Homo sapiens: one gene and its partner. The protein of the gene in region 1 interacts with the protein of each later gene in a biochemical or structural test. Each region holds a gene or a part of one and is shown on either strand. Other genes may lie near its edges. The genes, in order: TP53INP1 and HIPK2.

What was found.
Region 2: the proteins of TP53INP1 (region 1) and HIPK2 form a complex in vitro, tested with the Homo sapiens proteins (one study listed by BioGRID).

Annotation. Positions count from the first base shown.
Region 1 is NC_000008.11:94,943,059-94,955,671, forward strand, and holds the start of TP53INP1 (tumor protein p53-inducible nuclear protein 1), read right to left. Parts: upstream 6,321-12,613; 5' UTR 6,096-6,320; intron 5,287-6,095; exon of another isoform or gene 2,425-5,286; intron 1-2,424. UniProt on the Homo sapiens protein: Antiproliferative and proapoptotic protein involved in cell stress response which acts as a dual regulator of transcription and autophagy. Acts as a positive regulator of autophagy.
Region 2 is NC_000007.14:139,710,008-139,722,711, forward strand, and holds part of HIPK2 (homeodomain-interacting protein kinase 2), read right to left. Parts: exon of another isoform or gene 8,886-12,704; coding exon of another isoform or gene 8,843-8,885; intron 7,009-8,842; coding exon 5,925-7,008; intron 1-5,924.

The DNA of each region.
Region 1 (12,613 bases):
GGGGGGATATGCAAAATAATGCAGTTGGAGATGTCCAGCAGGCAGCAGGATATAGAGCTTTGGAGCTCAGGAGTGTGGTCTCAGCTAGGGGCATAGATTTGGGAGCTGATGACACAAAGACAGTGATAAAAAGCATAGGAATGGATGAGGCTAGGTGTGGAGGCTCATGTCTGCAATCCTAGCATTTTGGGAGGCTGAGGCCACAGGAATGCTTGAGCCTAGGAGTTGGAGACCAGCCTAGGCAACAAAATAACCTGTTTCTACAAAAAAATTTTAAAAAATTAGCCAGGTACAGTGGTGTGCACCTGTAGTCCTAGCTACTTGGGAGGCTGACGTGGGAGGATCTCTTGAGTCCAGGTTCAAGGATGCAGTAAGCTATGATTGTGCCACTGTACTCCAGTGTGAGTGACACAGCGAGACCTTGTCTCAAAAAAAAGTTATATATATGTATGAGATCATCCAGGGCTGAAGAAATGCACCTCACTAATCACCACCTCTTTTTATCACAAGCATCAGCCTTGAATCTACAACTTCAGGCTCCTGACAGTTCACTTTCAAAATAATCTTTAGCTGTAAAAGTAGTTGGGATCTGTAGCTAATGAGATTCCTGGTTCAGTTCCTTGTGTGTAAACTGAACTGCTACAGTTGTTTGGCACACTACTACACAAGTTAAACATTTCAAATAAATAACATTAGAACACTTTGTGGTCACAATTCATCTTCTTCAGCCACTAATTATTAAAAATAGGTAAACAGGAAGTGTCACTTGCATAACCAGTCTTCCTGAAACCTTCTGGAAAGCAGCACGGCCAAATCATGAAGGCTGGAGCTGTAGCAGAATTCAAAGTCAGCTTTATGCTCTATGTAAGAACAATCAGAAGAAAAGTGTAGTTTGTTTGACCTGCTGTGGTGTGATAGTTATATTCCAAAATAAGTTATCATAAGGTCTGATGTAAATAAAGATTTTTGAGGATACATGCTTAGAGGGAAAAACATATTTTCAAAATCCTTCCTCCATTTATTTTAAATTGTGGAGGCAGATATTGGCCCCACGTACAATTCTGTGTCTGCTGAACCAGTTGAGAGAATAAGCCCAATTCTGCAGAGCATGGTGCTGGACTCTAGCCCTGAATCAGCTAAAGCCACTGGGAGGGGAGAACCACACAGGGGAACCTTTGCTTGTCCTGAACGAATGCCTTGTCCCCAACCTGTGATGCTGCATGAGAGTAAGGCACTGGGGCCCAGGTCAGATAACTGGCAGCTGTAAGGCCAAAAAACATTGCTGGGGCCACTGCAGTTGTGACAGCTGCTGGGTTCCCACATGCAAATTGCCCCCTCTGGCCACAGGTCCAAACCCAGGAAGGCAGCTTCTGCCTGGAATATATGCAAGTAGCAAGTAAGATACAGGAAAGGCTTCTCTGGAGGAGCTTTCTAGGGAGCAGTACAAGTCAGTGCTCTTTTGGTTTCCCAAAGTCAGAGGCTGCCTCCAGATGTCCCATATCTCTGCAAGGACAACCAACCTTGGGCGACAGAGTGCTCAGAAGCCCAGCCAAGTGAGGGAGGAGCTCATCCTTCATCTCACTCAAGCCACTGCTGGTGTTTACATGGCACATCTGCTGACACCCGTGGGAAGAACACAGAATGGAGTTCCTGGGGAGGGTTAAAGGGGCCTGGCCATCCACAGCAGCAGTTCTGGCTGTGGCTCTACTACAGGTGGCTGGAGCTAAATTGGCCCTTCTGAGCTTCAGTCTCACTGTTGGGAAAATGGGGAGACTGCGCTGAATCACCTCGTCACTCTCTTTCCCCACAAACTTCTAGCACAAAAAAGTGAGGCTGGTTTAACTAGCAAAGCCAAATTCCTTTGGCCCTGCTTTCTGCAGGTGTCACAAAAGGCAAGGAGCTATTGGAGAGACCCTCCCCCCATTGCTAAAACTGTCCACTGAGGTAGCCACCAGGCACACTGTGCACATGAACACTTGAAATGTGACTAGTATCATCGAGAAACTGCATTTTTCATTTTACTATTTAATCCATTTACTAAGTTTAATCCAGTTAAACTTAAAAGCTGATAATTTAGTTTTTTGAAAACTTTCAAGTATGTTTGGAACAGTTAGGGTATGAATCTACTTTTTCACCTATAAATTTTACGAAGTCTAAATATAGATCAAGTACTTCAAATGAAAACTTTGTATCTGAATTGAGATGTGCTGTATATGTAAAGTACACACTAGAGTGTATTTCAAAGACTTAGTACCCCCCAAAATGCAAAACAGTTTTTATATTGATTACATGTTGAAAAAATAATTTTAGTATATTAAATACATTAATAAAATTAACTTCACCAGTTTCTTTTTCCTTTTTAAATATGGCTACTAGAAAATTCAAACATACATGTGGCTCACATTATCTATTTCTGTTGAACAGGACTGTTCTAGAAAAAGTCTTAAAGGCCTACCCTCCTACTGATGACCCAGAGACTGTCCCTGCCCAGTCACTGCTACTGTTGACCTTGGCTCCTGCCCAGGGATGGAGGCTCTCAACTGGGCTGGTTCTACATGGAGGTAAATGGAAAAGTAGAGCTTTAGACTCCTCTCCTCCCCAGATCACCACTAATATTCACAATGCTAGGGCAATCATAGAACGAAAATAAAAATTCCAGAGAAAGCATGTGTCCTAAGAGGACAAACTTACAAATACAGTTCTGGAATTCAGCAAAGAGGTGAAGCAAAGAAGGTTAGGTGAAGTAGCGCTGTTGTTCTTTGAACAGCTTTAACCAGCGTCAGTCCAGCAGTTTCCCCGACAAGAGAAAAGAACCCCTCAATACAGAAAAGAAACAAAGTGTCTGGGCCCTAGCATTTCAAGAAGGCAGCTTTGTCCTTGTTCTGCTTGGCTCAAAAGACCTCCATCCCTCCCTTTAAAAAATAAATTATGTCTTTTCAATTATAAACTGAACAAAACCACATTATAAAAAGTCTAGAAAATAAGAAAAATAAGTATTATTCCATTGCCTTGTTCCCACCACTTAACACATTGGTGCCTTTTCTTCTGTTTTTTTTTTTCTTCTACACATAAGGCTTCTTTTTATCATAGTTATAGTCTTGTGAATGCACTGTTTTGTATCTCACTGTTACTTAACATTTTATCATCAATGGTTTTCATATTATTACATGAGTAGAGATGCTTTGTAGGCAGAGAAAGGTGGCTGACTGAGTCTAATACTCACGGGGAAGAGCATTCTAGTTTGACCACTTAGAAAAGGAACTGCTAATTTGGAAGATCTTGTTAGCATAATTTATTTTGTCACTTTTAAGACAGCCCACCAAGAGGCAGTATATTGTGGTACTTAAAGACTGGCTCTGAGGCTGGGCGCAGTGGCTCATGTCTATAATCCCAGTGCTTTGGGATGCCAAGGCAGGAGGATCACTTTAAGCCAGGAGTTCAAGACCAGCCTGGGCAACAAAGCAAGACCCCATCTCTACAAAAAATAAATTAGCTGGGTGTGGTGGTATGTGCATGTAGTCCCAGCTACCAGGGAGGCTGAGGTAGGAGGATCGCTTGAGCCCATGAGTTTGAAGCTGCAGTGAGTTGTGATCCCACCACTACACTCCAGCCTGGTCAACAGAGTAAGACCCTGTCTCAAAAAAAAAAAAAAAAAAAAAAAAGACAGGCCCTGGAGTTTGAAATCTTGGCTCTGCTACTTGCAACCTATGTGAATTCAGGATATTTACTAACATCTTGGTGTCTCTGTTTTCTCATCCTTAACATGGGAATGATAGTTATAATACCTACTTCACAGTGCCAGTGTAAGGATTAAGTGTATACTACTTAGAATAGCAGACCTCGGTTCATTCAAAGCCAGTTGTGAGACTGTCAACAAGTCATTTAGCATCGCTGCATTTGAGTTTCTTTATCCATAAAATGTCTACTTAATAATTAGAGCTACAATTTACAGAATGCTTATTGTATGTAACGGGGCCTTGAAGTACTTATTTGTCCCATTTTACTGATGAGGAAACCGAGGCTGAGGAATTAACTAACTTGTTCAAAAGTGACAGAGTTGGTTGGGGTGGAGTCAGCATTAGGGCAAAAATCCATCTGATTCCAATTCCTTGTTTTCCCTATACATGCTCTTTTAGGCTCCCAGTCTCAACTATGGGTCTACGAACTTCAGAAAACAGCCCTTTTCAGTTAGTTTCAGCTGCCAGTAGGCGGCTCCAAAAAATATTAAAAAAAAAAAAAAAACCCGCAAGTTTGATGATCTAACTTCTAAATCTGTGTACAGTTGTGGCTCCTTCACAGTTTCAGGAAATCAGGTGGCTAAACGTACCGTCATTGAAAAGCAGCTTCAGAATTATCCTTCTTTTTATCCCACCCTCTTCCACTACTTTAAAAACGTGCAGATTCTAGTAATTTAAAATGGGTTTTGAACTGGAGAAAAACCAAGCCAAGAAAGTTATCTCTGCTTGTTCCACTTATATGAAGACTAGATTCAAGTAATTTAAAATGGATTTTGAACTGCAGAAAAAACCAAGCCAAAAAAGTTGTCTTTGCTTGTTCCACTTATGTGAAGACTGTTCAACTAGTGTGCAAGGGAGGTTATTCCCCCAGGGATCCACCCCTGTCTGCCCCTAAGGCTGAAAGACAGTGGACAAAGACAAGAGTAAGTGGTAATTCATAGCCTGATAATCTTGAATTTTGAAAGCAGACATCAGAGGAAGCAATGGCAGGAAAGAACAAAAGATAGGATGAGAAAACAAGACCTTGGTCACAGAAATTAGTAAGGTCCTGGTTCCAGGCAGGGGCCTTTTAAAATTATGCTGCCAGTTCAGAATTACACTGATTGCGACTTAAAAGCTTCCCAGTGCTTTTCACATCTGCAAATGAAAATGTATTTCAATTACCAGGCTGGTGATTTCAGTATCGTGGGGGAACTCATTATGACTTCTGTTCAGTGACCCCAAGGGTCACATTGTTCCCCCTTTTCCCAAAACTATTGTGCATTGAGAAAAGGCTTTTTTAGCAATAGATGCCCAAGTCCTTGGGAGTCACAGTTGTAAAGAGGCTCTTCCTTAATCCACTCTGTATTGGAATTAACCTACTGAGCAGATATAATCAGAAAATACAAGCAAAACAGACTCTCCAGGTAAAATTCAGCTGCCACTTTGAAATACAAACACCATTTCCTTTTATTAATTGGCTGTGTGGCCTTGAGCAACTTAATCTCTCTGTGCCTCGGGTTTCCTATGTGTAAGATAGCCGGGCCTATTTCATATAAGGTTATTATGAGAATCAACTGGGGCGATAAAGCAAAGCCCCCAGCATAGTATATGGCACATACTCAGCGCTCAGTAAGCGTGAGCGATCCAAAGGATCTAAATGTTAAGGGCCAAGGAGAGCGCTCTTTCCACAGGTGCAAAGTCAGGTAGCGAAGACTGAGTTCAAGCCAGGTCAAGCAAGGGACAGGCCGCGGACAGGCGGGGGCCGGTGGCCGGGTCACGGAGCAGGTTCCCCATAGCCGCAGGGCCTCCGGAACTCGGAGGGCAGGCGCAGGGGACGGGATCGCAGGGCGGGGACAGAGCGCCGGGCCACAAGCCCAAGCGCCGCTGTCTTCGGAGATGCGTCCCGGGGGTGGCCGCGGGAGCCCCGACGCCGAGTCCCGAAGGGGCGGCCCCATCCAACGGCCGAGAGCAGGCGGAGGAGGAGGAGTGGAGGGGAGTGAGGAGGGGTGAGAGGAGGAGGTCCCGCCGCGGCCAAGAAAACAAGCCACGCTCGGGGGAGGAGGCAGAGACCAAACTCCCAACCGCCGCCCAGCGCCGGGGCCAGGCCGGGCCCTTGTCCGCGCCGCCGCCGCCTCTGTCAGCCTCTGTCCGCGCCCTGGGCCCCGGGGGCCGCCGAGGACCGACCCACTGGGTGGGCGGCCGGGCCCGGCGGCGGCGAGGGGAGGCAGCGAGGGGGCTCGGTGAACGCGCAACCGGCGCCCCGAAGGCAGGGCGCGCGGCCGGCCCCGCCGGGCTCAGGAGCGGGCAGCGCTGCGGCCCCAACCGGCAGCGAGGCGGCCCTGGACGGACGCCCGCCCGCCCCCCCCCGGCACTTACGTGGGCCCGGGCCGTGCGGGGCTGCGCGGGGAAGGGAGCGGCCGCCGGCTCGGCGGGGAAGGACGCGGGCGGGGCGGGACTGCTGAGGTAGCTGCGGTGGGGCCGGGCTGCGCTGCACCTCGTTCAGGTACCCAGACGGCAGGCGCGGGGCCGGCTCCAGCCCTCGGGTCGCTGCGCCCAGGCCGGCCAGTCCAAGTCCTTTTGTTGTTGTGCAGCGCTCGCAACAGCTGATCGGCCGCTCCGCTCGCCGTCGGGCCCCGCTGCCCCGCCCCGGGCCGCGCCAGGCCGGGCCCCACCAATCGGCGGTGCGGGGGCCCCGGGGCCGCCCTGCGAGAGGTTGTCACCAACGCACGTGACCTGGCGCCCGGCCGGCGGCGCGCTCAGCTCCGAAACAAGCCCGGGCAACAAAAACCGGGAGCTGAGCGTGAAGGCCTGGGCGAGCGGAAGGGTGGGAGAGAGGGGCTAGGCCGGGGAGGGAAGCGCTGGGGCCGGGGCCGGCTTTCCAGGAGCCGGCGGGAGCGGGGTGCGTAAGAGGCGGGCGAGGAAGAACCGGCGGGCAACGGGAAGGGCAGAGGTGGATCTCTCCCTCAGCGACCCCTCTCGCCGAGTGAAGGGTCGAGGGTTTGGGGCACAAAGGGCGCAGAACGTTTTTTCCTGTGAGAGGAACATTAAGACTCCTGGGAGGGCTGGGGCTAACGCCTCCGAGAGCCCCACCTGGTCAGCCTAGGGTTAGACGTGTAGCCAGGGTGCTGGGAGGGGGCCGCTGCTGGGCCCCAGATAGAGGGGTAGAGGCCGCTCAATCACGGAGCCAGGCCCCACCTGCTGTAGAAACCGCCACCGAGAGCCGGCCGGGCTTGCTGCACGCTCTGGATTCCGCCTGCCTATAGGCGAGGCACAAGGGACTGCGAGACCAGGCCTGAAGGCAGAGAGGTCAGCAGGCTCGGGGGCCTCTGCTCCAGCGGACAACAAGCGCACCGGGCGGGAACGGCCGCCTCCCCAGGCGCTGCAGCCTAGCTCTCATGTGACCCACGGAACTTAGCCCCTCTGTTCTGTTTGCATACCTGCAAATTGTGGGCATTCACGCCGGGACTGCCAACTCACCAGGTTATTTATAGTGACAAGAGAGTGAGACAGTGGGCTTGAAAGTGTTTTCCAGACCAAGGCTCTGTCCCACATATAGGTGGATTAACTGTCTGGCAAAGGCAGGTGAGTAACGTTGATGCCTATCAGCTCTCATGTGGATACTGTTTGGACTGGGATGTAGTTCTTTGACCTGGGGTGAGCTGTATAGCAACCCTGGAGGGATGCCTATCACACATTACAGTATCTGAAAGACACTCACATTCTGACCCTCACAATGTAGTCAGTCCATTTCCAACAATGCTGGTTTTAAAGGATGTAAATTGCAGTGCAGGGAGTTGTCAGACACCAAGGAGTAATGATCAAAATATGATGGTCATTGGACCTTATCTTGGGAGAAAGAGCTAAAACTGTGTTCTAGATAGTCTCACAGACTTGAACATGCTTTGGATTTTAGGTTTTTGCAAATCAGGCTTGTTCTAATATTTTCTCCCACATGCTATGGTAGGAGCCCCATGATCTCTTGTTTCTCCCTAGGAATCCATTGAAGAGGCCATCTCCACATTCAGAACCAAGGTATGATGACAATTACAAGGGGCTAATTTTTAAAAAGAAAAAGGCCTACCTTTTTCCAGTTTGATAAGGTTTATCATGGTTAAAGCAACATGTGAAATCATCATCTTGTTATGATAGAAAAATTCAATATGAAGTAGATCATTTTTCCAAAGATGACCACAACAGTATCTCCATCATGAAGTGGGTGTATTTTTCTTCCCTTTGAATCTGGGCTGACCCTGTGATTGCTCTGACCAATAGAATGTGGCAGAAAGAATGTTCTAGGACTTCCAAGCCTCGTCATTAAGCAAAAGCATTAAGCAAACCCCACAGCTTCTGCTTTGTACTCTGGAAAATGCCAGCCACCCATGAGGAGAGACCACCCTGCTAGCCACAGGGAGAGGCTATGTGAAAAGAAAGAGATGCCTGGCCAGCTCTAGCTCTTCAGCTCATCCCAGCTGAGCTACCAGACACATGAGTGGAAAAGCCCTTAGGAAGTTCCAGCTCCAGCAGACACCATACTGAACAGAGGAGAGATAAGCCATCCCCACGGAGCACTGCCAAAATGACGGCATTGTGAACAAATAAATGATCATTGTTTTAAGGCACTAAATGTTGGGGTAGTTTTTAAAGCAGCGATAACCAAAACACAAAGCTAACAGAAATGCCCATCACAGATCAGTGACTCTAAACTCTACCAAATAGTGTTTGTGATGAAAACATCTTGTCTCAGGAGTCACTTGCTTTCTGTTTACTCTCTTGCTGATTTATAATCTTCCCACCTGGTGCTTGTTTATTCCCAGTGGTGCACCAAGGAGGGCGTGCCTCAGGGCAGCATAGGTGAAGTCTGTCCCTAGGAGGGAGGAGTACTTTACCACGACATTGTTTGGAACTGTTGGAGCATAATAATAAAAAGCAAACTGACTTTTAGTCAATTTTATTTTAAAATTCTTTGCAGACACACAAATTTACTGTGTACTGCCTGTATCTGGGGTGGATCACTCCCACTGCCTCCCTTCCTGGTATGCCACTGGTTTACATAAATGCATGCAGTGAAACTCAGGAGTAATGTCATCTCCATAGCGTAGAGCTGTCTGAACACAACCAAACTGTCAAATTACACAAATGCAAGCAAGCTTTTCATCTGTTCACTGACAAAGACCCAGCCAGGTTCCCTGCCTGGGCAGATCCAGTGAATCCAACCATCCTTTAATTCACAGAATAATTCTTAGCGTGTTGCTATAGTACCCACTTCCAGGCTGACCCCCTGCTGTGGGGGTGACCCTTTCCCCATCTGTCAGAGTTCTCCTGTCTGTTTTCCATGGAGCTCAATACGCTCCCTTATCTACCCTAACAAAAGGGATTCAACCTCAAGTTTTGTTTGGAAGACTCACAGTGCAGGACCACATTCACACCAACAAACAGATACAATGCAACTAATGCCTCTGCCTCCTGCTTATGAAAGCAGGCTGTGGCCATAACCCTGCCAGTTGCATCGAGGCTGCTAAAGAATGTTGTTTCCTACCAACCCATAGGATGGCTACTTGGGGCAGCCTCAGAACACAAAGCAACAAGTTGTTCTGTCTGTACTGAGGAGAATGGCAAAGTGAAGTCCACTTAGGTCGTTTTCTATCTACCCATCAACAGTTAGGATCTGCTGGGCTTCTACCATGGACACAGCATGTTGCCAAGTGTCTGGGAAAGACAAGAATTTTTTTAAATTGCATTTTAGATAAACAATCACTTAGCATTCCAGTGACATCTATTGTCTTAAGGGAAGAAAGGATCTGACTGGGTCTCCAGAAAGCCTGGAACAAAGAAGCAAGAGATTCTGTGATTTCTGCTTTCTGAAATAAAAACAGAAAACAGGCGTTTAACTGGGCTGCCAGTTACCATCTCAGAAAGGAGTCAAGAATTATTCCAGGGCCATAAGTGTAATAGCTTTTCAAGACCCTGCAACCTTTGTGACTTTTGTATGTTTGTCTTTTTGTTTAACCCTATTTCCACGTGGTGATTAGAAATAAAATCCTTAAAATAAAAAGGGTCTGTGTGCTGGCTGAGGCAGCAGAAAGGAAAAAGGAGGCGGGCCCCCTTCATTCAGTAACCAGTGCTAGGGGGGAGTCCCCAAGAGGTGGGATAGCCTGCGCTGGATTGTAACTAATGATCGCTTCAGGCCTAGAGTATTTTCTCTAGTTTCTGGAAAGTACTTTCAAGGCTTCTTAGTTTCTGGCTGAATGTACAGGTAACCCAATTATTTATGTTAAAACTTAGAGCAGAGGCTGGGCACGGTGGCTTACGCCTGTAATCCCAGCACTTTGGGAGGCCGAGGCAGGTGGATCACCTGAGGTCGGGAGTTCAAGACCAGCCTGACCAACATGGAGAAACCCCGTCTCTACTAAAAATACAAAATTAGCTGGTCATGGTGGTGCATTCCTGTAATCCCAGCTACTCGGGAAGCTGAGGCAGGAGAATCGCTTGAACCGGGGAGGCGGAGGTTGCATGAGCCGAGATCGCACCATTGCACTCCAGCCTGGGCAACAAGACGGAAACTCCATCTCAAGAAAAAAAAAAACAAAAAAAAAACCTTTGAGCAGAAAGCAAGGTCATCCCTTACTGGATATGGTCTAGAGACATGATACAGAATGGCCCTTCATACACCACCCTAGCTCCAAGGAGCCATGAAGCTTGAAGAGGCGCACTGTGTGGGGCAGATGTGACTCGTTCTTGGGGCGGTTGTCAGAGATTAGTTGAAGTGTGTGAGCAAAGGGCTTTTGTAACTCCCGCTGCCAAAGCGACTTCTTCACTCACACTGATACTTCTGGGCACTGCCCAACAGTCCGCATATGCCAGAGGCAACCTGAGGTGGGTCTGTAATCATGAATTGCTTTGTTAGGGTGACAGCATGAGTGCAAGTGCCTTTCTGCTCTTCTCAAAAGGATGCAGATGATATGGTTACTACTTACATAAGCCACACACTGCCTAAATAATCTACCTATTTAAGGAAAACTCGTTTATTGGATTCTTTTTTTTTTCTTTTTGCATGAATGAACTACCTTAAATATCCATTTCATTTTGCAAGATGAATTTATGCTTTTAAATGTCCATGTTTCTCATGGCTTTGGCAAAGCCAGGCCTAAACGTTTTGATCATCCAAGGCAAGGTTTTTTATTTCTATAGTATCCTTTCGGGGCCTCTTTTCCTGCTTTATTCCTCTTTGATAGGAGTAGGCATTTATTTCTCTTAAATATCCATTACATTTTGCAAGATGAATTTTTTTGTTTTGTTTTTTGTTTGAGATGGAATCTCGCTTCGTCGCCAGGCTGGAGTGCAGTGGCGTGATCTCCACTCATTACAACCTCCGCCCCCCGGGTTCAAGAGATTCTCCTGCCTCAGCCTCCCAAGTAGCTGGGACTACAGGCGTGTGCCACCAAGCCCAGCTAATTTTCGTGTTTTTAGTAGAGACAGGGTTTCACCATGTTGGCCAGGATGGTCTTGATCTCTTGACCTCATGATCCGCCCGCCTCAGCCTCCCAAAGTGCTGGGATTACAGGCATGAACCACCACACCTGACCTATTTAACAGTTATTTAATGAGCACTTACTCTATGCCAGGCACCAGGGATACAGCAGTGAACAAAACAGAAAAGTCTTGGCCCTCAAGAACCTTCCATCTAGTAGAGGAGATACAATAAACAAGTAAATATATAATTTAGTGGGTGCTGTGAAGAAAGATAAGCTGGGTAAAGGGTTAGAGAGAAGTTGGTGGGGAGGTAGTGTGGTCAGGAGGGCCTCTCTGAGGAGGTGGCATTTGAGCATTGAGAACCAAAGGGCATAGAAGAGTGGTCCAGGAGCAGGAAGAGCAAGTGCAAAGGCCTGAGGTAGAAGAGTCTTTGCTGTGCTTAAGAGCAGTGCTGTTCTCAGGCTACACAGTGTAACTGAGGATTTGGCATGATCTGGTATCTGATGGTGACCTGACCAGACCCATAGGTTTATAAGCTGAAGAGCCGTAGAACTTTGAATTGTTTTGCTGTCTTTTTGGCTTTTCCAACACTTCCAGAAAGGCCCACAGATCTCTGAGAAGTCACTTTTTGTGTTTATTATTATAACCTGGAACTAAATTGTAGAGCCCTGAGAACAGGTCTCACAGAATGGGCCTCAGGTAATCAATTCTGTTGCATCCTGGAGATAAATACACTCTGTGCTGTCTGGTAAGGAAGGAAAGAACAGATAATTATGGAGTTCCTGCTCTGGAATGGGGACAGTTGCTTATCTTCTAAGTGCCTCAGTTTCCTCACCTGTAAAAGAGGGACAATAATACCAGCTCGGAGAGACAATAAAGGCAGAAAGGTGCCTGGCACATGTAGGTCTTTGGTAAGTGTGTGTTCTTACCAGCACATAGACCCTTCTTGTCCTAGTTCATTTTGTGTTGCTATAACAGAATACCTGAGAATGGGTAACTCATAAAGAACAGAGATTTATTTCTTACAGTTGTGGAGTCTGCCAAATCCAAGGTCGACAGACCCACAGAAAGGCAAGAAAACGTGCACACACATGAGAGGAAGGGGGTCAAACTCATCCTTTTTATCAGGCATCCACTCCTGTGATAACTAACCCACTCCTGGGATAACAGCATTAATCCATTTATGAGGCAGAGCCCTCATGACCTAATCACCTCTTAAAGGTCCACCTGTCAACACTGTTGCATTGGGGATTTAGTTTTTAACACATGAACTTTGGGGAACACGTTCAAACTATAGTGCTTCTCATTTGAAGTATTTTGTCTCTAATCACCATGTGGAAATAGGATGTTATTTATTTATCTATTTCCCTTTTTTGAACCCCAAATAGATTAAAAGGAAATAGGATTTTAAAAGAAAATAAAAG
Region 2 (12,704 bases), on another chromosome or scaffold:
CTTCATTCCTGAGTAACAACAGTTGTCTCCTAGCCTCTGGCTCTCAAAACATCCCCACAACTTTTTTTTTTCTTTGCCATTCCAATTGATTTATACCATCATTAATTTTCATTAAACTTCTCCTTTGTTCCAGAATTTACAATGGCTCCCAGCTCTGGCACTTTGGCTCAACCCAAGCCCCTCAAGCCTGTATTCAAAACTCTCTATTGTCAGGCTTCACTCACCGGATTATTATTTTCCAGTACAGGCCTTCGACTCCCGCCAGGTGTCACTGTCTAAGGAGTCACCATCATTTCTCCCATCTTCCCTTATTTATTCCAGTCTCCATGACCCCTAGACTTCCCCATCCCTATCTCATGTTAACTTCCCTGTTAACCCATCTGGCAAAATCTTTCACTGACTTTTAATTTCTTGAACTGGCTTTGCTCATCATTGTTTCCCTAGAGTCTGGCAGAAGGTAGGTTCACAATAAATCTCTGTTGAATGACCAAACATTTAAAATATTGAAGCATCAGAATGACAGTCTTGGCAGTTGGTTTGTGTTTTCCATCTCCTCAAAGAGACTGTGAACTCTGCAAGATTAGGGATCATGCCTTACCCTCTGCACTCTGGAGCACATATCTACTACGGGACACTCAGTAATGAATGTTTGATGAATTGAACTGAAAATTAATCTCCACCCTGATATGGTTTGGATCTGTGTCCCTACCCAAATCTCATGTTGAATTGTGATCTCCAACGTTGGAGGAGGGGCCTGGTGAAAGATGACTGAGTCATGGGGGCACACTTCCCCCTTGCTGTTCTTGTGATTGTGAGTTCTCACGAGATTTGGTTGTTTAAAAGCATGTAGCACCTACCCCACCTCTCTCTTTCTCCTTCTCCAGCCATATAAGATGTGCCTGCTTCCCCTTCACCTTCCTCCATGATTGTAAGTTTCCTGAGGCCTCCCAGCCATGCTTCCTATACACCCCGCAGAACTGTGAGTCAATTAAACCTTTTTTTTTTTAATAAATTACCCAGTCATAGGTAGCTCTTTATGGCAATGCAAGAATGGAATAATACACACCCCCACCTAAAACCACCATGAAATCAACTTGAAGACAGTCTTTGCACCCCAAAGAATCAGACAAAAAAAAAAGGCTGGGCGTGGTGGCTCACGCCTGTAATCCCAGCACTTTGGGAGGCCAAGGCAGGCGGATCACAAGGTCAGGAGATTGAGATCATCCTGGCTAATACAGTGAAACCCCATCTCTACTAAAAATACAAAAAAATTAGCCAGGCGTGGTCATGGGCGCCTGTAGTCCCAGCTACTCAGGAGGCTGAAGCAGAAGAATGGGGTGAACCTGGGAGGCGGAGTTTGCAGTGAGTCGAGATCGCACCACTGCACTCCAGTCTGGGAGACAGAGCAAGACTCCGTCTCAAAAAAAAAAGGTTAGATTATTCTGAAAAAGTGGATTATTTGCTATTTTTCATGTCCTAATTTTTTATGTTCAATTTTTGGGTCCTGGTAACAGTCCTACGTGTTTCAAAAAACTCTAGACAAGAATATTTTGAATAATCCAGAGTAGAAACCAAAAAAAATCTATATATTTTAATCACTGATTACCCTTTGCCTGAATGGCATGTCTTTTTGTTTGTGTTTTTTTCTGAGAGTGGAGTTTAACATTTGGTCTTATTTGTAGTTTACTGGTTCTGCTGATAATGGAAATACCCCAGTACCAATTTATTGCTTGCTCAAAAAAAAAACAAAAAAACTAAAAACAAACAAAATGAACTGGCATCAATGTAGAATTAAATAACAAAAGGGCAGGGGCGCCCAAGGTGAAGTAATACAAGCAAGGATTACCTGCAACTCTGTTCTTTTGGGTGTCAACACCTGAAAGGTGACACCATTAAGAAAATCCCTCTGTCCTTCAGAATAGTGTTTCTCAAAGACTGGTCCTAAGACCCCCTGCCTGGCTCACCTCCAGTTCTCTGAGGCAAGTCTCTGTGGTGGTGGGTGTGGACTTTCTCCCAGGGTACTCCCAGGGAGACTCTGTTCCCAGCAACCTCTCCAGGAGATTCCTGTGCACAGTAAAGCCTGAGAACCTGGGCAGCTGACAGTTAATGACATAACTGACCTTCGAATTGGAAGGGAATACCCCTGCTTCAGACTCGAGAAAAAAACTTAAAAAGCAGCCTTTGTTTCCTGAAAAACACACCAGTGGGCTTGCCTCACAGAATACCAACAGCCACTGTGGCCAGGCACATGCCTGAGAGCTGGGGAAAACAGTTGGCTCCGGGGACACCACCTCCTTTTCCAAGTCCCCAAGGCGAGGATAACATATCCTTGTCTCACACCGTTTCTGTGTCACTAGGTGGGGACAATGGTGGGATGAGACACTTAGCCCAGTCCCATGCAAAATGACAGAGGGACACATAAGTACTCTACCTTTTGAAAGTCAGATGTCCTGGGACGATAATGTGCCCAGCTCAGATACAGGGGGCCGAGGGGAGAAAGTCCCCACCCACCACCTGCAGGACAAAGGCCAACCTGCTGGGAGGCTGGATGCACAGCATGCAATGACTCCTCCAGCCCAGGCGGCTCAAACACACAGCCATTCCCTCACGATGCAGATGCAGCTGAAAGCATCTGAAAGCGTCTTCTTTCTGGGACATGGGCCTTAACGATGGACAATTAAAGAGCTTTTCTTGCCCCCTTTCTTTCCTATAAGAGGCAAAGCCACCAGGAAAATCAACTTGATAAACATGGCCTAGAGCTGGCTGTCCCACACAGCTGGGACGAAAAGAGACAGAGCACTAGAGACTGTCCTCGAAAAATCGGATCGATCTATATGGTGGCAAACCACTGCAGGGCTCAGACAAGGCCTGAGGGAGAAACAGAACATTGCACCAACTTAGAAATGAAGCCTCATTTCAGGCAGAAGAGCCGCTGTCTTTCCTGCTGACCGTATTTTTGGAACCAGGGCTGGGCACAGGGAGGCTGACATGAGGGCCTGAAGGTGACCACAGAAAGGAGAAAGAGGCCTTCTTGCTCAGAATTTTAGGCAATGGTGATTTCAGGGGTGAAAAGAGGGTACTATCACAACTAAACGGAGGGTCCTTCAGAGGGATGTGGGGACACAGGGGCCAGATGTGACTGTGCCTGTCACGAAGTGGGGAAAAGAGGGCTCCTGAGGGCCCAGGAACCGCCAGCAAACCAGCCTACCACACCCACCAGAGGCGTCCAAAAGGCCTGATCTCACCCACAGAGGGGGGCAGGAGAGGATCGCTGTGAGTCCAGGTGAAGGAGTCAGCCCTCCCCAACCCTCACAGGCAAACTTTTACTGCTGCCGCAGGCTTCCTGAGCTAGGATCCCCGATTTTGCGACCTGTCTCCTCAGCACTAGGGGCACCAGCACCAGGCAGGAAAGCAAAGAAAAACTCGCAGAGTCCAAGGGGATGGGCAGGGAGGGCTCCAGGAAGCGTCACATGGGCACCAGAAGGCAAGATGACAAGGGGGTCTTAAGAATCCCCAATTCAGCTTACTCGATTCACCAAGTTTCGCTCTAAGGATGTGCTGCCTTTTAAACAGAGTTTGTCGAAGTCTTTTTACAAGTCGCCATGCTAGCTTTCAGTGAATGTTAATAACACTGGTACGTGTTCATGATGCAGCAATTCAGATGAACTACATAAAAGCCCTAGCAGCCAAGTCAGGGGCTGTTCACCCTGAATTCAGGCCAAGAACTAGAAAGAGCCAGCCTTTGGCATGCTGAATTTACCAACCTAAATACGAAGTGGCACAGCAGCCTCCCAGAGCCAGCACAGCACCAGCTAGCCCCCAATGGGGCTGGTACCCGGGACGGCCACCAGAGCTGGCTTTCAGAGGCCCAGGCACTCTCTACAGAGAATATGTGCTGTCGGTACCGGGCACCCAACCCTCCAGATTCACTCAACCATTGCCCATCCTTCTCCTCTGGAGACAAGGAGAGGCTTCTTGTCTTCCTTGGAGGCTCCTGCCCTGGGCTTACTTCTCCCTGCCATTGGCTCTGGGGCCAGCGGGGCACAGAGTGGATGGCCTGGTCAGGACGAGGGAGTGGAGAGCAAGTGGAGGGGCAGCAGTAGACCCGTCTGTCCGCACGGGGCCTGGTGGTGAAAGCACAGGCCTGTGGAGACCTTTCTGCGCATAGGAAATGAGCGGGAAAGGAATCCTCAGGGCAGGGCAGAGAAGAGGCTCGCAGAGAGCTGTTCTAACTCAGGAAATGCCTCCTAAAGGGAAGAGGGAAGAGACAGAAACAGCATGGGTGAAGAGGCCTCGAAACCTCCTGTGTGAGTCAGGATTAGGATGAAAGGAGACGGGGTGGAAGGTGGGAGGGCATCTGGGGATCCGAACGGAGGGGCTGTTGCTCTCCCAGGGAAGGAGGGCCTGGTGCCCAGCAGGCTGAGGGAGGGGCTGGGAGGAGACTTGCAACAGCTCTGCCTGCAGCCAGGATGGGGGCCCGGACAGGGAGCAAGAAGGGGAAGCTGGCCCAGGTCAGCCCCAGGAATGGGTGACAGGTCAGCTGTGTCGACAAGGCCCTGGGGCATGTTCCAGCCTTCTCTCTGTGGCCTTGAAAGGCGCATGGAGAAAGCACACGGGCAAGCGAGCGTGCTTGCTTGCAAGCAGGATGGCCTCCGGGGACCCCGGTCTTCCTGCCTACGTGGCACGCTCTTAAATGTGCATCCGTCCCATCTTCTCATGGGAGTTTCAGTTTTGTTTCTTGTGACCTCTATCTCCACTGCACTGTTCGGCACCACCCCAAACACACCCCCAGGCTGGTTCCACAGAGCAGGGTCTTGCTTTCCATCCCTGCCGCCTCCCCGCTGTGCACCCGCCATGGCCAGCCACGGAGTGACACACCTAAGCCATGTTACAGCCATGTTACCTCCCAGCTGCCCACGAGGCTGGTGAGAGGATTTCTCCCACTTCATGGGTTAGGAAATGAAGGCATGGAGAAATCAGGCCATTAGGAGAGGAGGGACCAGGTTCACTCTGGCCTTTCCTGACTCCAAAGCCAGCACTCCGATCTCAGCTCCATGTCGGCAGCGGTTCCAATCCTGACTGCATACAGGGGTCCCTGAAAAGCTTCCAGATACCCCAGGATGGCAAGGGCCCTGTCTATATCCCTATACCTAGCACTGCGGCTGGCACATATTAAAAGTGAAATCAAAGCTTGTTGAATGACTGCATGTGTGAGTCCATGACTGAACACACTTCCCTGCCACGGACACTATCATTCCTCCCTCATCCTGACCCAAAGCCTGAAGTCACCTTACCACAGGAGCCACCCAGCTGGCCCCAGACTAGTCTCTCCCTTCCTCCAGCCCTTCTGCACGTGGATAGACAAGGAACCTTCTCGGAACATCCCTTTCAACCCGTTACCTTATGTTGTTCAAGGTTTCCAGGGCTTGCTCTGGGTTTGAGGATACAGTTGCAATTCCTTGATCTGATATTTAAGACCCCCAGTGACCTGGTTCCAACCAGGCTTTCACTCACATCTCCCACCACTCACAAACTGTTCTGGCCAGGCGGGTGTCCTTCTTGTCTCCTGTAAATTCCCACTAGTGTGACTGCGGACTGTGGATGGCACATCCCTCTCTCTCCACCACCTGTCTGGATCCTACCCATCCGGGAGGACGGAACTCTTCTGCTCTGCACCCCAGGTCCCAGGGAGCCCTTCCAACGCTGAACACCTGTGCCACGGATCTTACCTGGCTCCGTTCTAATGTGACTTCTAATTGACATCGCAATGTGCACATGTCCTAATTTCGTAAGTACATTAAGATCACTTGAAGGCAGGAACTGTAGACATATAATTTTATCTCCCCACAGTGACTAAGGTGGCACATTCTCTGTGAGTGCCACTGGGCATTCAGCAGCTCCTGTCTCCTTGTGGACGGTCTTACCTGTAATATCTGGACTGCAAGTAGGTGGAGCACACAGCCTTGGAGACGTGGCTGGCTGAACCAAAGTCGATGACCTTGACTCTGTATGGTTGTCTAGATGGATCCACCAGCATGATGTTTTCTGGTTTGAGGTCAGCGTGGATAAGACCTAGGCTTTTGAGTTTCATCAGGGCTGTGGCTACCTGCTGGAGAACTGGGCGAATGTATTTGAGGGGCAAGGGGCTAAACTTGTTTTGCTTCAGAAAGTCATAGAGGTTCTGCTCCAACATCTCGAAGACCAAGCACGTGTGGTTCTTGTGCTGGAAGCATTCGTAGGCCCGGACGAAGTTATAGTCATCGGCACTCTCCGTGCTCAACCGGGCCAGGATGCTCACTTCAATCTGACCTTGTCGGGCATAGGATGGGTGGTTCTTCAGGATCTTGATGGCTACGATCTCATTGGTGCCCCGTTTCCAGCACTTGACCACTTGCCCAAACGTCCCTCGGCCCAAGAACTCTAAGACCTCGTAGGTGTTGGTCATGGAGCACAGCACCTCATGCTGCACCAGCTGATAGTCGCCCTCGCTGTTGGAGCCGCTGTTTTTGGAGGTGGCAGTAGACGTGGTGGCAGTGGCGACAGTGGCCCCGCTTGCATTATTCTGAATCATGGGTGGATGCTCCTCGATGATCTGCACGCTGCTTGTGTTCTCGATCTCCTCGCTCTTACGCTTGAGTCCACATTTTTGGTAGGTATCAAGGAGGCTCACAGTGCTTCGACGCATTAGGTTGTGTGGTCCGCCGAGGACTTGCCCGGTGACAGAAGTGCTGCTTGCTGAGGTGACCACGATGTGCCCGGTGCTTCCTGGGAAGACGATGGTCTGCTCGTAAGGTAGGCTTGGGTTTGGGACCGGCAAGGAGGTGCTGACGGTTGTGGTGGCTGGCTGCGACAGGGGGATGTTCTTGCTCTGGCTATACACTTTGCTGTGGGAGCCGTACCCAGTCATGTCCCAGTTGGAACTCGGCTCTATTTTCAGTTTCTTCACACTACAGAAGGCACTTGATTGAAGGGTGTGAGGGGAGAAAACTTGCACATGTGAGGCCATACCTACAAGGAAAGGAAAACGAAAAGTAAGTATCGGAGTCACCTTGGTACAAGTAAACTCAACAGATCCCCTTCAGTTCTCATCTGTGGCTTGGGCCATACAGAATATATTCCTCCCACTTGAAAACAAGGTTGAAAAAGTGAATCTCTTCCACCCAGAAGCACATTCTGGTCACTGAGTTTGTGGAACCAAGTGGTTCCAGGGTGCCACTTGCCACCATTAGGTGCCAGCAACACAGCTGAGACTCAGAAACAGAATTCCAATATCAGGACATAGGTCACCATTTTTTTTTGTAAACATTACTTGTGACAGAAATGGATTCTTCCTCAGTTCTCCCTGGGTTGCTTTCTACTGAAACTCAGGAGGCTCTGCTGTCACGTACTTCGTTGCCCACATCATCAGCTCAGCCTTGTCCACAGACCCTGTCAAGTTTACTGGTTTGAGAAAACATCTTCCCACACAGGCCCCATCACCAGGCCACTCAGGATCTTCTGGATCCTGGATGAACCCTAATTACCAGCTGGCATCTTTGTCATCGATTCTGTAGGGTTTAGTGGATCAGCAGTTGGTCTGACGTTTTTCATTTCAACAGCATAAAACATTTTATCAGCCTTACTGGTGGGGACTGGGTAGCACAATTCATGGCTCCATTCACTCACGCTTCCTGCTAAATTCATATATCAATACATTTCTCTAGAAAGTACTATTTCTTTTTGTTTTTTTTTGTTTGTTTGTTTGTTTTTGTTTTGAGACCGAGTCTCGCTCTTGTCACCCAGGCTGGAGTGCAATGGCATGATCTCGGCTCACTGCCACCTCTGCCTCCCAGGTTTCAAGCCATTCTCCTGCCTCAGCCTCCAAAGGCTGGGATTATAGGTTCCTGCCACCACGCCCGACTAATTTTTGAATTTTTAGTAGGGATGGGGTTTCACCATGTTGGCCAGCCTGGTCTCAAACTCCTGACCTCAGGTGATCCACCCGCCTCAGCCTCCCAAAGTGCTGGGATTACAGACGTGAGCCACCGTGTCTGGCCAGAAGTACTATTATTTCATACCAACATCTCATCCACAATTTAGATAAACTTAGAAACCTATGAGACCGTTATTCTGGAACACTTGTACAAATTACGGTGATACTGAAACAAAAATTCATAGAAAATATATTAAGCAAAAATAATAAGGTGATGAAGGATAACTCCTTAAAGGTTAAAAGAGTAACAAACATTGCCCATCTTCTAAGCCACTATCAACAAACATTTCTCACAGAAGCACAAGGAAGTGCAGCTTCTGCAAGCCCTGTTGGGGGTTGGCTAACCTAGTGTTCCTGTCTCTCTGAGCCCCTGGCATTACCTAGAGTGGTAATCCTTTCCACTCCATCAACCATCACCCTAGTCCACCTTCTCTCTCAGTAGATGACCCAACTTCCACTTTGTCCAGAAGCCTGAGGTCAGCCTTACTTTCCTCCTTTATTTCCTTCTTCATTTCAGAACATTCCTGAATCTACATCATCCTCCATCCTTCATTCCTTCTCTCCAGTCTGAGAGAAAGAGGTGTTGCTCTTTTCCAATACTAAAAAAGTTCCCGATTCTCATGATCCATATTTGTCCCATTTTCTCTTGAACCTGCTTCCACCACTGTTCTTTCTCTTGTAGCTTTCCATTTCTCCCTGTACTTAATTGGATCCAAGTATTTAGTAGGAACTTAATATGGCTGTCCAAATGAATCGGTCACCTCATCTTTTTCTTCTGCCTTCATGTGCGTGCACACACAAACTCCCAACATGGAAGGCAAAAGGAGTAACAGCCGCATTCCCCCCTCTTAATTCTTTCCCTCCTCTCACCTGTGATCAATGGTTTATGCTCCCTTTTCTTCAATGCCCACATCTTAATCCATCTCCCCCAACTCGTTAATGCACTATAGGCTCCTGTTCTTGAAGGTAAATGACTTCCTAATTGCCTAATCCAATGGCCTTGTTTCAGCCCGTTCTTCTTAACCTCTGCAACATCTGATACTGCTGACCACGACTTCCTTCTTGATGCTCTTCTCTGGACTTCAGTGAATCTGTAATCTCCCCATCCCGTGTCTGATTGCACACTGTGTGCTCGGGTGGTTCCTCTTCCTCCTTTATTTTATTATTATTATTTTTTGAGACAGAGTCTTGCTCTGTCGCCCAGACTGGAGTGCAGTGGTGCTATCTCGGCTCACTGCAACCTCCGCCTCCTGAGTAGCTGGGACTACAGGTGTGCGCCACCACGCCCAGCTAATTTTCATATTTTTAGTAGAGACGGGGTTTCATGTTGGCCAGGCTGGCCTCAAACTCCTGATCTCAAGTGATCCACTCCCCTCAGCCTCCCAAAGTGCTGGTATTACAGGTGTGAGCCACCGCACCCAGCCCTCTTCCTCCTTTCAAATGTTGGCATTTCCACCGTTTTGACTCTGTTCTCTCTGGCAGCTATCATCCATTCAAGCAGTTTAAGCCGTCACCTCTGTGTAGGTGACCCCCACATGTTTATCACAGGCTGGGCTCTCCCTCAGAGGTTACAGTGATATATTGCAGCCTCCTGCTACAATGTCAAAGATGCGCTTCCAAAGCTGAACCCCTTATTTTTTCCTAAAAATCTAGCCATCTCACCCTCTATCCTAACATCTCCATGACTGTTCTAGTCACTTGGCTCCAAAACTATGAACTATGATGGTTCTTCTTTACATTCATAGACAAGAAGGTGCTAAGCCTTATTAATTTCTCCTTCCTTCAAAACATCTCTTGCATCCAATTCTTTATTTCTGCTGTTGCTGCCACTTCCACAGTGAATGTATTTATCACTTTCTAGAAGGACTAAAGCAAATCTAGACATCTCATCTACCTGAGCACTCTGTCTCCCTTTAATTTGCCTATATTTGGCTACCAGATTAATCTTCCTAAAACATCTCTGAGCATGCCACTCCCCTCTCCAAACTTCCACTGGCTCCTTACTGTCAAGGAGATAAAGCTGAGAACTCGATACATTTACATGTTGATTCCAACTACCTTGTTAGCTCCAGCTCTACTAACCTTCCTGGGTCCTTAACTTGAATGAAGCTGGTCTATTCGCTGTTTCTAGAATGTCTCTTATACTTCCTATCTTCACACTCTTACACTATTCCTTTACCTGGCATGCCTTTGCTGCTTTTCTCAACTTATCCAAAGACCAGCCAGCTTAGATTCCTTCTCTTTCCAGACCACTCTAACCCAGTGATCATTCCCAACTCACTGTTCCTACAGCACTTACCATATGTACCATCTGACTTCAGCTCTGACTTCCTAGGGGCAGTTCTGCTAACATCCAGCACCTGATTGGAGCCCCACCTCCACCCTGGGCCCATGGATCTGCTGGAGGGTGTTCCCTTCTTGCTTCAATCCTGAGCTCCGACCTCCATCTACGCACTGTGACTGCACGTCTGTAGGAATCCTCGTGCCTGACAAGACTATTCTGGCTTGCTTATTCAGAATCCGTACTTCACCCGTTTCTTCCCACTGTTCTTTTTGTTCAAGTCAACATCCCCCTTATTCTAAGTCAACATCCCCCTTATTCTAGAACAACACAGAATATGGCTATTCCCTATTTATCAGTATCAAGTGAATATCCATATTGTTCTAGATGTTGTATACAATATAGAAATGACCAATTACTTGGCTTTCAGTAACTTAGCCACTGAAGAGTCAAAGCAAAACAGCCATTTCCTTCATCCTTTCGTGTCAAGCCTGCTGCTTATTTTTCAGTCTTTAAGTACCCGGAAGGGGGCGGTCAGAGAGAGCGACAGCAGAAATACGCTGTTCATACATAAAGAAGGTGAGGTGCTAGTCTCTGTTTTCACTGTTTCAAAAAGATCTTGGTGGAAAGGCCGTCCACGGTGCAGAAGTGGAATTTTACAGAGGGGAAGAGGGTGGCTTATGACTTATTTGTTATTGGGATGACAGCCAAGGGTCATAAAATTGTGGAAATCATCACTGGCTGCCTCTGATGACAGATGCCCAGGATCAGACAGGAGGCCTACATGGCTGGAAACACCCTGCACCACAGCCGGCTGCCTCAGACTCCGGCCTGGCCTGGTGTGGCCCCTGCTGCCCCTTTATGAAGTCAACAGCCGCTATTCCAATGACTGGACCCAACGCTCAGTGCAGACGTGTTACCTTTGTTCTGTAGCAGAGGCCACTTTGCTTCAGGCAGCAAAATGCTCCAACAAGATATAGTTAAAGTCTTTAACAGTAATACTTTTTTAAATCCCTGAAATACCTTCATAAGGAATAAGACACTGCTGGTGGTTTTGTAGCTTAATCTTAAAATAATCTTATGGCAACACACTTATTTCCAAACATTTCTCCTTGAGAGTATTTCTCTGGAACAAACCTTCCCTATTAGTTTAGCTTTCAGAGAGTTGAGCCCACAACGTATTACTTCTCTATTTATTCAGATCCTAAAGTGAGGGACAATAAAGTGGGGGTGCAGAGGGGGACTCAATGTTTTTTTCCACTTGAAAGTAAAAGCTAAATGTCTCCTCTCATTTCTTTCTGTATTGACCTCTGGACTAGTCAAGGCTACTTCCCGCCTCATTTGTCAATATCCTTTTCAGGAAAAACAGAGGCTTAATGCACATTGTCAGTTTGATCCAATGGCAAAATCTCAACTGCTTTTTAAGTTATCTCTGCACTTCCTAGTTGGCTCTTGAAAGAGAAGGCGGATTTTACTCCTTCTAGGTGAGAGACCAGGGGGACTACTGGACTTGGGAGGGCAAGTTTCGAGCCCATGGGGAGCAGTAAGAGGAACCCAGGAGGTCACGGTAGGATAAATCTGCCATAACCACACCTGCTCCTACAGGAATGACCTGACCCAGACTTTTCCACAAAAGCCTTAGTGGCCTCCCAAGATAAAACCTGTCAAAATGGCCACATTTTCATTCACTAAAGGACAGGGAGTCACCATAACCTAGAACTAAAGCTTTTAACAAGTAGCATGCCTATTACCATACCACTCTGTCTCATAAACAGGCTGAAGTCATAAACACTGAATCTCAGATATGCATGGGGTTCTTACATGCTTGTTAATTACACAGACACGAGTTCATGTGGTTGCTACAGAAGTGATAAGTAAAAAGCACTGAAGAACAAATTTATTAAAATTTAAAACAACTTCTATTACACAACTATATATAATAAACTCTTCATTGCATATGACAAATGAAAAATAGCACCTATAAAACTGACATTAAAATATATGCTATAGTTAGAAGAATTAAAGTCCACTATTTGTAAGACATTATTCCTTATTACCATAAAGCTGACAAAGTCTCTCATGCCGAAACAAATCCAGGTTACCCAGACTTAGGGTGCACTTTGATATGCTAAAGGCAATGAGGGTTCTGACCCTTCTTTTAGTTACTTTATTGAAATTCTCATTTTGCATTTATAAAAAGCATGTATGCAAGTCTGCATTTCAAAATACTATTTTTAAAACATCTGCCTTCTAGCCTTAATTATAGATGCCATTTATGTCTATAAAATGCTAGACTTGACTTCATCTGCTATTCCTCAGGATTCTTAAAACACTTATGAGTCTCCAGGTTTTAAAATCTTGAGTACTAAGTACACAGCAGGCTCCAGGACAGATGTTTTATGGACAGGGTAAGCATACGTCCTACTGCCGGTTGGACGTATGCTTACCCTG